Regions from separate parts of the Homo sapiens genome. Here all the other regions are linked to region 1. Evidence: fine-mapped expression QTL. A gene starts in region 1. Each other region holds a variant in brackets. All regions are shown on one strand. Distances are from middle to middle. Region 1 holds the start of EPB41L5 (erythrocyte membrane protein band 4.1 like 5). Region 2 overlaps EPB41L5 (erythrocyte membrane protein band 4.1 like 5). Region 3 overlaps RALB (RAS like proto-oncogene B).

Evidence for each region. PIP is the estimated chance that this variant, and not a neighbour inherited with it, causes the effect. A credible set is the group of variants that fine-mapping cannot tell apart.
Region 2: its variant is the best candidate, but not a certain one, in a credible set for the expression of EPB41L5 in anterior cingulate cortex (GTEx, PIP 0.50).
Region 3: its variant is the best candidate, but not a certain one, in a credible set for the expression of EPB41L5 in blood mononuclear cells (TOPMed, PIP 0.55).

What each region holds. Positions count from the first base shown.
Region 1 is chr2:120,011,482-120,015,720 of GRCh38, forward strand. It overlaps EPB41L5 (erythrocyte membrane protein band 4.1 like 5), which reads left to right and starts at 1,596. Exons shown (of 25, transcript NM_020909.4): 1 at 1,596-1,729. LOC107985817 (a long non-coding RNA gene) reads left to right here. Exons shown (of 4, transcript XR_001739205.2): 3 at 159-177; 4 at 912-1,223. RefSeq lists a silencer at 1,772-1,941.
Region 2 is chr2:120,077,343-120,081,581 of GRCh38, forward strand. EPB41L5 (erythrocyte membrane protein band 4.1 like 5) reads left to right here. Exons shown (of 25, transcript NM_020909.4): 10 at 1,151-1,239. Among named protein-coding and RNA genes, the nearest start is that of EPB41L5, 66 kb to the left of the region's middle. The variant A/G (reference allele first, on the strand shown) is at 2,245.
Region 3 is chr2:120,277,132-120,281,370 of GRCh38, forward strand. RALB (RAS like proto-oncogene B) reads left to right here. Exons shown (of 5, transcript NM_002881.3): 2 at 1,487-1,647. The coding sequence starts at 1,534. Among named protein-coding and RNA genes, the nearest start is that of RALB, 26 kb to the left of the region's middle. The variant T/C (reference allele first, on the strand shown) is at 1,891.

The sequences.
Region 1 (4,239 bases):
CCTTGGCAGCTCCAGCACCTGTTGAGCTGCCCAGCCAACACCACATGGGGCAGAGATGAGCTGCCAAGCCTGTCTACTACGTTTTGGGGTGGTGGAGGAGTGGGCAGTGCCAAATCCCGAGAAGAAGCTCAATGAGTATTTGTCTCTTTTCATTTCAGCAAGCAGAGGGTCCTCAAGGTAACACCTTCCAGTGGCTCCCCCACCTCTCTCAGAGCTCTAGCCAGGGCCCACAAGGCCCTACATCTTACCCCTTTCCTCTCTGACTGTCACCTCCTCTTCCTCTTGCTTCCTCACTTCTAGCCACACTGGACTTCCTTGAAAAGACAGACCTGTCCCCTTGCAGGGCCTTTTGCCCTTGCTGTTCCCTTCGGTTCTCCCCAGATGGCCACAGGGTTCCTCCCACACCTCCTCTAGGTCTTCATTCAAATGCTACCTTTTTTTTTTTTTTTGAGACTGAGTCTGGCTTTGTCGCCAGGCTGGAGTGCAGTGGCGTGATCTGGGCTCACTGCAACTTCCGCCTCCCGGGTTCGAGCGATTCCCCTGCCTCAGCCTCCTGAGTAGCTGGGACTACAGTCGGACGCCACCAGGCTCAGCTAATTTTTGTATTTTTAGTGGAGACGGAGTTTCACAGTGTTGGCCAGGCTGGTCTCGATCTCCTGACCTCGTGATCCGCCCGCCTCGGCCTCCCAAAGTGTTGGGATTACAGGAGTGAGCCACCGCGCCCAGCCAAATGCCACCTTCTTATTGTGACCTGCTATGTAAAATCGCAAACCCTCACTGCCTGTGGTTATTCCCTACTTGTACTTTTCTTTTTAGCATTTACCAATGTCTGACAGTATTTAATTTCACTAATTTATCTCGTTTATTTTATGTCTCGTTTATATTCCTGCTATAACGTAAACTCCGGGAAGGATTTTTGTCTGTCTTGGTTGTCTGTCGTATCTCGTGTCTAGAACACAGAACTCACAGTAAGTAGGCACTTCAATCAATTACCTGTAGAATGAACGGACTGAATGTCACCTTGTTAGAGTACCCTCCTGACCACACTCTGCTAAGCAGTAATCTTTTATTTCTCTTTCCCAGTTTTATTTTTCCTCATTTACACTTAATCACCTTGTGACACCTATTTGTTTACTGTTTCCCCAGTAGAGTGAAAGTCACTTTAACAGCAGAGATTTAAATGTATTTTAATCCCTACAAAGGAGAAAAAGGGAGGAAATACGTGACAGGCTCTCAATAAGTATTTGCGAAGGATTTAATCTCTTGAACGAATGGATGAATGAATCTAGCAGCCAGCTCCACCAGCCTCCTTCGTGATAGGACTAACTGGGGTCTGTCTGCGGACGGGCGCCTCCTCCGCGGGCGGAGGGCCGCAGCGGGAACTGGGTTTCGGCAGCGCCCCTTTAAACCAGCCGCGGACGCCCGGCTGCTGGCGCTAGTTCCAGCCCGGCCGGGCCCGGCCTCGCCGGTTTCTCTCCAGTCGCCGCGCCGGCCAATTTCCGGGGCGGTGTCATCGCCCGTTTAAGAGCGGAGCGCTCCGCCCTGGGGGCGGAGCTGGGAGGGAGCTTTAAGGGGTGGACGGGCGGGAGGTCGGGGTCCTCCGGGGATTAGAGCCGGTGGGCTCGTTGTGGGCGCCATTTCTCGGCGTCTACCGAGGAGCCGCCCCTTTCTCAGCCTTGCTCGGCTCTTCCCCGCTCTGGTCGCCGGGGCTGCGCCGTCCCCAGCTCAGGTAAGCGCGAGGCCCGGCGGCGGCGCCGCAGTACAGTCCGCTGCGCTCCTAGCCGAGTGGACCCTTCCTCGCCCGCGCCTGCGGTAGCGGCCTTGTCCCCGGGGAGGCGGGCGGGGGCCGCACCCAGACCCTAGGGCGGCCGGCCCCTCTCTCGTCGGGCCGGCAGGGCATTAATCCCGCCGGAGGGAGGGGCGGCGGCGGCCAATGAGGCAGGGCCGCCGAGTTTCGGTCGATACCGCGCGACGGGCCGGGGCGGAGGGCCCGGGGCAGCCGGGTTAATGTTTGCCGAGCGGACGCGCTCCCCGAGCCGCGGGTACCCCTCGCTGGTCCGCTGGGCTGCCGTCCAGCGGGAGAGACAAAAGTCGCAAGGGAAGGGGAAAAACGAACTGAGTTTGTGTCACTGTCTTGGTGGACTTTTCGAGCTAACCTGTATTTGAGAAAAACTTCAGTCTCTTGGGAAAGGAGAGGCAGGTGTGTTCCCATGAAAGACGAGGTCTGAAGGTCCCGCCCCGCCCCCACCCGGGACGGTTGTCGTGCTAATGATGGGTTCTTTGGTGTGTAAATGTTAATTGTGTCTGTGGTTACTCGAATTCTACCTAAGAGCGAGACCCAACTCTTAAAACGTTTGGCAATATTTTAGACTAATATTAAAAGTTTTTAAAGAATTACGGGGAAAATTCCCATAACCGTGTACATTTGTAATGTAACCCACAACTGCATTAACTCAGTTTCTAACATAACCCGTTGCTGAGCTCTAGTTAACCTTGTTGGATTATTTGTGCATGTAATATGCTGTGCAGGCTTTAGAAAATAGGTTAACATTATTCGAAAACGATATGCGTAACTGCTGTTGAATTACTCGCTTGCATTTTCTTTATTGGGAATACTGGGACAAAATATAGTGTTACCTTAAATGGCATTTGCTGTATGTTATATTGCTTTATCAAAAAGCAATTAACCAACCATATTGTGGCCACCAGTCATGTAAGAGTATACATATTTCATGACTAACTTTTGGGTTTTGGGTACTTTTTTTAACCAACTTCTGATAGGATTGCTTAAATTTGCATTTTATGATTCTAAAGGAAATCCTTCTAGTTAGGAACTAGAGTAGAAACTACTGTTTTTTGGAAGCCACATAAACCTACCATCCAAAAATTCCACTGTGTCATTCTAGTGTGTCAGGCGAGATGCGGGTTAAGCCAGCTGTTGGGCCAAAGTAGTGAACAAGCCAGACGAAGTCTTTGTCCTTGTGTGTGAGTGGGGGAAGTAGTCAGTAAAAAAGATAATAATTAACAGATATTTAATTACAATTTCTTTGTTATAAAGAAAAGGCTAAGAGTACTGAAAGAGATGTCGAATTTAGACTCACAAGTCTGAGATTGCTTTTCTGAGAATAAGACATTTCAACTATAAGTCTGAAGTTAGTCCAGTGAAATGGGAGCGGGTGGAAGAGAGGTCAACTGGAAAAAGAGCAATCCAGAAAGGTGGAACAGCTAATGAAAAATGGTCCAGAATTAAAAAGACTCTCCGGCCGAGCAGCAAGAGTACAAGAGCAGAGCAAACAGAGGGGAGTAGGCTGACAGATGGGTCAGGCAAGTAGGAGGAGCTGCATCTAGGACCAGGGCCATTAAAGATTTTAGAACAGGGATCAGATTTGTGGTTGCCAAAAATCCAGTGGCTGCAACATGAAGAGCGCAATTGGAAGAGTGCAGGTGGGAGGGGAAAAGTGAGTATGAGAAAACTTTTTTCACAATCATTAAAAAAAAAAAAAACCCACAACTTTTAGTGATCCATTCATATTATTTTTTTTTTCCATTAAAAAAAATTAGGCCAGGCGCAGTGGCTCACGCCTGTAATCCCAGCACTTTGGGAGGCCGAGGCGGGCGGATCACGAGGTCAGGAGATGGAGACTATCCTGGCTAACACGGTGAAACCCCGCCTCTACTAAAAAAAATAACAAAAAATTAGCCGGTCGTAGCGGCGGGCACCTGTAGTCCCAGCTACTTGGGAGGCTGAGGCAGAAGAATGGCGTAAACCCGGGAGGCAGATCTTGCAGTGAGCCCAGATCGCGCCACTGCACTTCAGCCTGGGCAACAGAGCGAGACTCAAAAAAAAAAAAAAAATTAGGTGGGGTCTTGCTGTGTTGCCCAGGCAGGTCTTGAACTCCTGGCTTCCAACAGTTCCGCCTTAGCCTCCCAAAGTGCTGGGATTACAGACATGAGCCACTGTACCCAGCCATATATTCTTGTTGTGACTTCTGACATGCCCCTCTTCAGAGAGAATCTCAACAGTTTACGTGTGTGTCTGTTTAGCGTGTCTGTGTGTGTGCATGTATCCCATCTCCGTGTAGGATGAAACTCTCTTCAGTGTTCTGTGATTTGATTTTTCACTTAGAAATTTTGTCATATCTAAGTCAACTATTTATTTAAAACAACTGTATTATGGCTGGGCTTGGTGCCTCATGCGTGTAATCCCAGCACTTTGGGAGGCTGAGGTGGGAGGAATCC
Region 2 (4,239 bases), 66 kb after region 1:
TAAAAATTTATTCTTTGGAGGTTCGCAGTGACTGTGGAATTTTTCAGTATGAGGGAGGGCATGGAGTTTGCATAAGCTAGCACTGGGTACTTTGGATGTATGGTTAAAAAGTTTGAGATTAAATACCAAATGACTAGAATCTCACAGAAAGGTTCATTATAAGAAAGAAGAGAAGCAACCAACATCCCTAACAAGGTACTTGGTCCTTTTAAGCTGTTATTTTATTTTATTTTATTTTTTTGCTATAAAAAATTGTTTTAAGCTTTTGAGCCATTTGTTATCCTTTTTACTTCCTGTTATACGACTTACACTGAGTAGGCTCTGTTAAAATAATTCAGGATGCAAAGTTGAAGATTTATAGCTTAAAGACTTTGATAAACTTTAGAACAGCTTTGTAGTGATTTAAGTTATTTCTAGTTTAACTAGTAACATTTTTCCAGAAAGGCGGTTGTATTAGTTCATTCTCGCACTGCTATAAAGACATAAATTTATAAAGAGGTTCAATTGGCTCATGGTTTTGCAGGCTGTACAGGCTTCTCCCTCTCAGGAGGCCTCAGGAAACTTATAATCATTGGGCAACGTGAAGGGCAAACAGGCACATCTGTACATGGCTGGCAGGAGGGAGAGAGAGCAAAGAGGGAGGTGCTACACACTTTCAGACAACCAGATCTTGTGAGAACTCATTCACTATCATGAGAACAGCAAGGGGGAAGTCCGTCTCCATGATTCAGTCACCTCCCACCAGGCCCCTCCTCCAATACTGGGGATTACAATATGACACAAGATTTGGGTGTAGACATAGAGCCAAACCGTATCAGCAGTCTTTTCCAAAATACATGATTTAAGTGGTAAGTATAATATGGGAAGAATGTGGAAACAGCTTTGTTTGTAGTGGGAGTGTAACTACCCACTTTCAATGAAGATACACTTTAAAACTCTAGTGTTTCAATGACTAGAAATAAAAATATATGCATAAATTTTTCTGAGAATATTATTATGGATACTCTAATTGTTGAAAACATCTCATATATTAATATTAGCCTGTATATAATTAATACAATTCAATACAAAAATAAAATTTAAAAGTTGTGTCAATGTGAAACCTGTTTTGTACAAATAAAGCTAACACATTTTTCTCCCCTTAAATTAGGCTAGAGATGGGAATGACTATAGTTTGGGACTAACACCAACAGGAGTCCTTGTTTTTGAAGGAGATACCAAAATTGGCTTATTTTTTTGGTAAGCAAGAGTTATTGTCAAAGATACTTACTGTTGTTTTGGTTTTTAATGAGTAAATAAAGTTAATACATAAACAAGTTTGGAAATCAAATAGTTTTGAAAAACTTGTCAATGAAAGCAACTGTCTCCTGTCACACTATTACGCATCATTATTCCTACTCTCCAGAGGCAATTATTAAAACTCTTCTAGCTGTATTTCCCATTAGTTTCAAAGTATACCACAATCTATATCTTGATATAAATATTTATATTTTTATATGTATCAGATGTTCACATGGGCACTTTCTCCCTCCATGTAGTCATGTCATTGCTTTTAATATTTATTATTCCACAATCCCTTTACCCCCTATTGTGTAAGAGGAAGATACTAATATTTTTATCCCTTCTCTAAGCTGTGCTCCTTATACTGTTCCAGCTTTTATCGTTCATACTTTTAAATTACATTTATGTTTTACTTTTACATCAAGGATAGATTTTACTTGGATTTCTTGGCCATAATTGAGTCCATCAGATTTTGTCTGGTATTCTAAAAGCTGAGAATCAGGGTACTGTTTACAATAAGATGTCTCTATCAGAATAGTACAGAGCCTAGGTGTTTACTTTTGTACACTAGACAGGGACTGTTAGCGCAAAGACCTCTGGCATCAAACTCAAATTCTGACACATCCAGTTACTTTAAACATAGCCCACTACGTATATTTTTAGCCATTTCTGCTTTATATATCCCATGAAACTGCACCCTAACATCTACTGGCCATAGATAAGGCAAGCTCTGTAGATTAAAGGACCCCAAAACCACTGCTGCCTTTCTGAATTCTCTGACTCAGATCCCTCACACTTAACTGCTGAATGCCATCCCCTAGGCACTTAAGCCCCCTCTCAGGTTCCCCTCTTTACTGAGAGTTTCCTTGCCCTCCTCCCCATCTGGTGGTAGCCTTGCAGCTGCTGTCTCTGGAAGGTCACCTGCTATGAAGGACCACCCCTATCAGGCAACCCTTTCCAAAC[A/G]CTGCTCGATAAAGCCTGTTCTGTGGTACATTTTCTTGATCAGCTCGGAAGTCCTGGAACTCACAACTGGTATTACATTTCCTTTCTTTTTAGCTATTTGTTTTTGTTCTAGAGTTCTTGGCTTCCCCATCTCACATACCCCACACATCCCTTTAAATTACCTGCCTTTGTCTTCTCCTCAAGCTTTTTTAAGTTATCAAGGGTTACATTAAATGGTCCTTCTGTTCCCTGTGGAACTGTTTGCTGCACAGGTTGCTTTCCAGCTTTTATCTTGAGACTTCCCTTTCCTGTGTTCTCAGCTAGGGTCCTGCGTGGTCCTCCCATGGTTTCCTTTTTCTTTGTCCTCCCTGCCCCCGCTAACTGCCTAAGTAAAGAAAGTAACTGCCTAAGAAAAGTAATTTGTTTGAATGCTTAAATGCCTTAAAATGATTTTTTTGTCTTTTATTCTTTCTTGATAATTAGGCTGAGGATAGAATTTTAGGTTGAAAATTATTTCCCTCAAAAAATTGAAAGTAGTATTTCTTTTTTTTTTTTTATTATACTTTAAGTTCTAGGGTACATGTGCAAAGTGTGCAGGTTTGTTACGTATGTATACATGCGCCAAGTTGGTGTGCTGCACCGATTAACTCGTCATTTACATTAGGTATATCTCCTAATGCTATCCCTCCCCCTCCCCCAACCCCACGACAGGCCCCGGTGTGTGATGTTCCCCTTCCTGTGTCCAAGTGTTCTCATTGTTCAGTTCCCACCGACGACTGAGAACATGCGGTGTTTGGTTTTTTGTCCTTGCAATAGTTTGCTGAGAATGATGATTTCCAGCTTCATCCATGTCCCTACAAAGGATATGAACTCATCCTTTTTTATGGCTGCATAGTATTCCATGGTGTATATGTGCCACATTTTCTTAATCCAGTCTATCATTGATGGACATTGGGGTTGGTTCCAAGTCTTTGCTATTGTGAATAGTGCCGCAGTAAACATACGTGTGCATGTGTCTTTATAGCAGCATGATTTATAATCCTTTGGGTATATACCCAGTAATGGGATGGCTGGGTCAGATGGTATTTCTAGTTCTAGATCCTTGAGGAATCGCCACACTGTCTTCCATAATGGTTGCACTAGTTTACAGTCCCACCAACAGTGCAAAAGTGTTCCTGTGTCTCCACATTCTGTCCAGCACCTTCTGTTTCCTGACTTTTTAATGATGGCCATTCTAACTGGTGTGAGATGTATCTCATTGTGGTTTTGATTTGCATTTCTCTGATGGCCAGTGATGATGAGCATTTTTTCATGTGTCTGTTGGCTGCATAAATGTCTTCTTTTGCGAAATGTCTGTTCATATCCTTTGCCCACTTTTTGGTGGGGTTGTTTGTTTTTTTTTCTTGTAAATTTGTTTGAGTTCTTTGTAGATTCTAGATATTAGCACTTTGTCAGATGGGTAGATTGCAAAACTTTTCTCTCATTCTGTAGGTTGCCTGTTCACTCTGATGTAGTTTCTTTTGCTGTGCAGAAGCTCTTTAGTTTAATTAGATCCCATTTGTCAATTTTGGCTTTTGTTGCCATTGCTTTTGGTGTTTTAGACATGAAGTCTTTGCCCATGCCTATGTCCTGAATGGTATTGCCTAGGTTTTCTTCTAGGGTTTTTATGGTTTTAGGTCTAACATTTAAGTCTTTAATCCATCTTGAATTGATTTTTGTATAAGGTGTAAGGAAGGGATCCAGTTTCAGCTTTCTACATACGGCTAGCCAGTTTTCCCGGCACCATTTATTAAATAGGGAATCCTTTCCCCATTTCTTGTTTTTGTCAGGTTTGTCAAAGATTGGATGGTTGTAGATGTGTGGTATTATTTCCGAGGGCTCTGTTCTGTTCCATTGGTCTATATCTCTGTTTTGGTACCAGTACCATGCTGTTTTGGTTACTGTAGCCTTGTAATATAGTTTGAAGTCAGGTAGCGTAATGCCTTCAGCTTTGTTCTTTTTGCTTAGGATTGTTTT
Region 3 (4,239 bases), 270 kb after region 1:
TCTCCTTTTAACTCTCATGTCATGAAGGGGTATTTGTTCTTGAACTCACTTCTTTAATCAACCAGAGGGATGTGTGGGGCTGTGTAAGAGTGTGAGAGCATATGTGTGTGTGAGAAAGTGTATGAGAGCATAAGAGTGCATGGGAGCATGTGCGAGAGCGTGTGTGTTCTGTGAACGTGTTACAGCATGTGAGATTGTGTGTGGTGTGAGCATGTGAACATGTGTGTGAGAGCATGTGTGTGGTGGCGTGAACATGTATGTGTGAGAGCATGTGAACACGCATGTGCATGTTAGAGCCTCTGAGCCTGTGATATGAGCATGTGTTAGAGCATGTATGTGGTGTGAGCATGAACATGTATGTGTGGTATGAGCATGTGAACGTTAGAGCGTATGTGAGTGTGTAGTTGTGTGTGTGTGTGAAAGCGTGAGTGCACCTATGAGAGGACAAGTGTGTGATAGTGTATGGAGTGTGTGTTGTGAGAGCATGTGAGCTTGTGAGTGTACATGAGCACAAATTTGAAAGTGTTGTGAGAGCGTTGTGAACGTGTTATGAGTGAAAGTGTGTATGTGGGTGTGTGTGATAGTGCGTGTGTGATAGTGTGTGAGCTTGTGTGTGAATGTGAGCATGTATGACAGCGTGTGCTAGCATGTGTGAGCCTGTGATAGTGTGTGAGAGCGTGTGAGAGCAAGTGTGTGAATATGTGTGTTTGAATGTGAGAACATGAGCATGTGTGAATGTGAGAACATGAGTGTGAAAATGAGTGTGAGCGTGTGTGTGAATGTGAGTTAATGTGAGCGTGTGTGAGCGAGTGTGAATGTGTGAATGTGAGTGAATGTGTGTGAATAAGAGCATGTGTGAATGTGTGTGCGAGTGTGTGAGCATGTGTGAATGTGAATGTGAGAGCGTGAGTGTGTGTGAATGTGAGCGTGTGTGAGTGTGAGCATGTGTGTGAATGTGGGCATGTGTGAGTGTGTTAGTGACCGTTTGTGAGTGTGAATGTGAGAGCGTGTGTGAGCGTGTTGTGAGTGTGTGCGTGTTGTGGGGTAGAGGGTAAGAGGGCAAAGCGAGGAGTAAAGCTAAAGAGCTGGGGATTGAGGTCCCAAGCTGTTCTCCGCGGCAGCCGAGAACCGAGCAGAGAGGTAGGAAACTGGAGCTACGAGCGGTTTGGTCTCTGCCTCAGTGAGGCCCTGCTGAGGGTCTGATGATTTTTGGTGACTGGGTGTCCTCTCCACCCTGCCCAGTGAGGCGGGCGTGGGGTGTGCGCTCCTGTTTCTCCCCTCTAGCCTTGGCTTCGCCCCAGCTGTGCTGGGGTAAGTGACTTCCAGAGTTGTTGGAGGGCTCGCATGTCTGCCCTGAGCCTGAAAGGATTACTTTCCTGTTGGAATGTCTGGGTTAGTTAGGCTTTAATGGAGGATGTGAATGACATTTGGTTTTAGCTAGGTTGAAAGCAAATCGCCTCTAAGTCTTTGTCTTTGTCATCAGCAGCTCTTCAGTGGGTCATCTGTGTGTCACAGCCTCAGAAGACCAGCGAGATGGCTGCCAACAAGAGTAAGGGCCAGAGCTCCTTGGCCCTCCACAAGGTGATCATGGTTGGCAGCGGAGGCGTTGGCAAGTCAGCCCTGACGCTTCAGTTCATGTATGACGAGGTAAGCCCTGCTAGGCACAGACCACCTTCCTTTGGCATTGGCCGTAGCAGTGTCCCTGCTCCCGCTGTTTCTGTGCCGGTCCTCCCGTACACAGGGGTTCACGGAGCAAGTCTGTGTTGAGGTGGCTTCTGAATAGCTTCCTAGGAAGGTCTAATCAGCATAAGATCTGGATTGCTGATTCTAGGTAAATAATTTCAACTCCGGCGGGGATGTGAGAGATCTCTGCTTGCATCGTTTCCATTG[T/C]TATACTTCGAGCTTTCTTTCTGACAAAAGCCCAGGGGAGGAGAGAGGAGCCTTTGTACAGATTTTCCAAACAACACAAGCATTTAGCCTTGTGATTGTCAGTCAATCGCGAAGTGAAAGAGAGTGAAAGGGGAGCTGAGCTGTCATACAACTTAATCCTTTCGCAAGTGATAGACATCAGATCCAGTTCTCCCGTGCGGCAAGGTAAAGCTTGCACTATCCTTGCCCAAAATTTACGTCACCTACTTAATGTGGATAACATCACTGGTGTTGAGTTCAGTGTGACAACACAGCCTTGATCCCCGGAGCTACAAAAGTCCCTGCTTGAGCTGTTTGCTAGGATACTTAGCCTACTGTGGGCTCTACATCTGCAGATTCAAGCAATGTAGAATGAAACGTTGCGGAATGAAAATATTCGGGAAAAAAACCCAATGAAAAATAACAATGCAATGATAAAAACAATACAAATTAAAACATGCAATGTAACAACTGTTTGCGTAGCCTTTACATTGTATTATGTATTATAAGTAATCTAGAGATGATTTAAAGTGTACGGGAGGATGTTACATGTAAATGCTGTGCCATTTTAAGTAAAGGACTTGAGCATCTGCAGATTTTGGTATTTGGTGGGGGTCATGGAACCATTTCTCTAGGGATACCGAGGGATGACTGTAGTACAGGCAGGGAGAGTGTTCCGAGCAGAGCTTAAACCTCAGGGCCTCTCACTTGCATTGCGGCCACATGGCTTTATGAGATTTGCGAAAGAAAGCTATCACAACCACGTCAGTTAAGATCACTACCTCTTTTCACTAGACTTTCCCATTGTCCTGCTTCCTCTTATGCTGGGTGCAGCTGGAGTGGCCATGGGCATTTTCGGCCTCTAGCTGAGGGAGTTTGTGTTGGGCTGGGTTAGGTGGGAATAGTGGTATGTGTTGGTGTGGTTTGGAGTCACGCGGCATGTGGCGATTATCGCTGGCTGCAGGAGTACTCCAACCGCCCACTGTGCTGACGTGCGAACATCGTGATGTGAGGTGCAGGGCCAGGGGTGGATCCTGATGCGAACCTGTCCTGTGGCACCTGACACAAGTGTGTGAGAGCTAGAAGCTAGAAACTGGGCCAGAAAAGTCTTTCAGATCTTACAGCTTGTACAGTGAAGCTCAATAGAGGTTTCCTAAATTTGGCAGTAATCCCAAAACTTTCATTACTAGAAATGCCATGTAGTCACATGCACATGTATGTTTATTGCAGCACTATTTACAATAGCAAAGACATGGAACCAACCCAAATGCCCATCAAAGATAGACTGGATAAAGAAAATGTGGCACATATACACCATGGAATACTATGCAGCCATAAAAAAGAATGAGTTCATGTCCTTTGCAGGGACATCGATGAAGCTGGAAACCATCACTCTCAGCAAACACAGGAACAGAAAACCAGACACCACATATTCTCACTCATAAGTGGGAGTTGAACAATGAGAACGCATGGACACAGGGAGGGGAACATCACATGCTGGGGCCTTTTGGGGGGCGGGGGGCAAGGGGAGGGAGAGCATTAGGACAAATACCTAATGCATGTGGGGCTTAAAACCTAGATGATGGGTCGATAGGTGCAGCAAACCACCATGGCACATGTATACCTACATAACCTGCATGTTCTGCACATGTATCCCAGAACTTAAAGTAAAAAGAAAAAAAAAAAAACTCATGTAGTTGTGAAGCTGAAAGAACCTCTTCTAAGCTGTCAGAACAAAAGACATTTTCATTAACCATGCTAAAGGAAAGACTAAATTATTTTTTATTCTCTATAGGAATGTTTCAAAATCATTGGCATATGACAAGAAAAAGTATACAGCAAACAAAAAAGTAGAAGGTATTCTAGAGGTATGTCAGGCAGTTTAATTAATAAAAATATTGTTATTTTGCTGGATTTTGTGATGTCAGTGCTGTTTGTATTAGTTTTTTTTATTACTGTATAATAATCACAAAGTTAGCAGGTTAAAACAACATACATTTGTCATTCCATAGTTTCCATGGGTCCAGAATTGGAGCCTCAGCTGAGTCCTCTGCTCAGAGTCCCACAAGACTCCACTCAAGGTGTCAGCTGGGGCTGTGACCTCTTCTGAGGCGTGGGGGTCCTCTTCCAGGCTCCCTAATTGTTGGTAGAATTTAGTTCCTTGTGGGTGTAGGACACAGGTGCTCGGATTCTACAAGTTGCCCGCAGGCCCCTGCCATGTGCCGTCTCCATAGGCAGCTCATACCACAGTGGCTTGCTTCTCCAAGGCCGGCAGGACAGTCTCCAGCCAGCCTAGACGGTCTTATAAAATGAAATGGAAACATGGGGGTA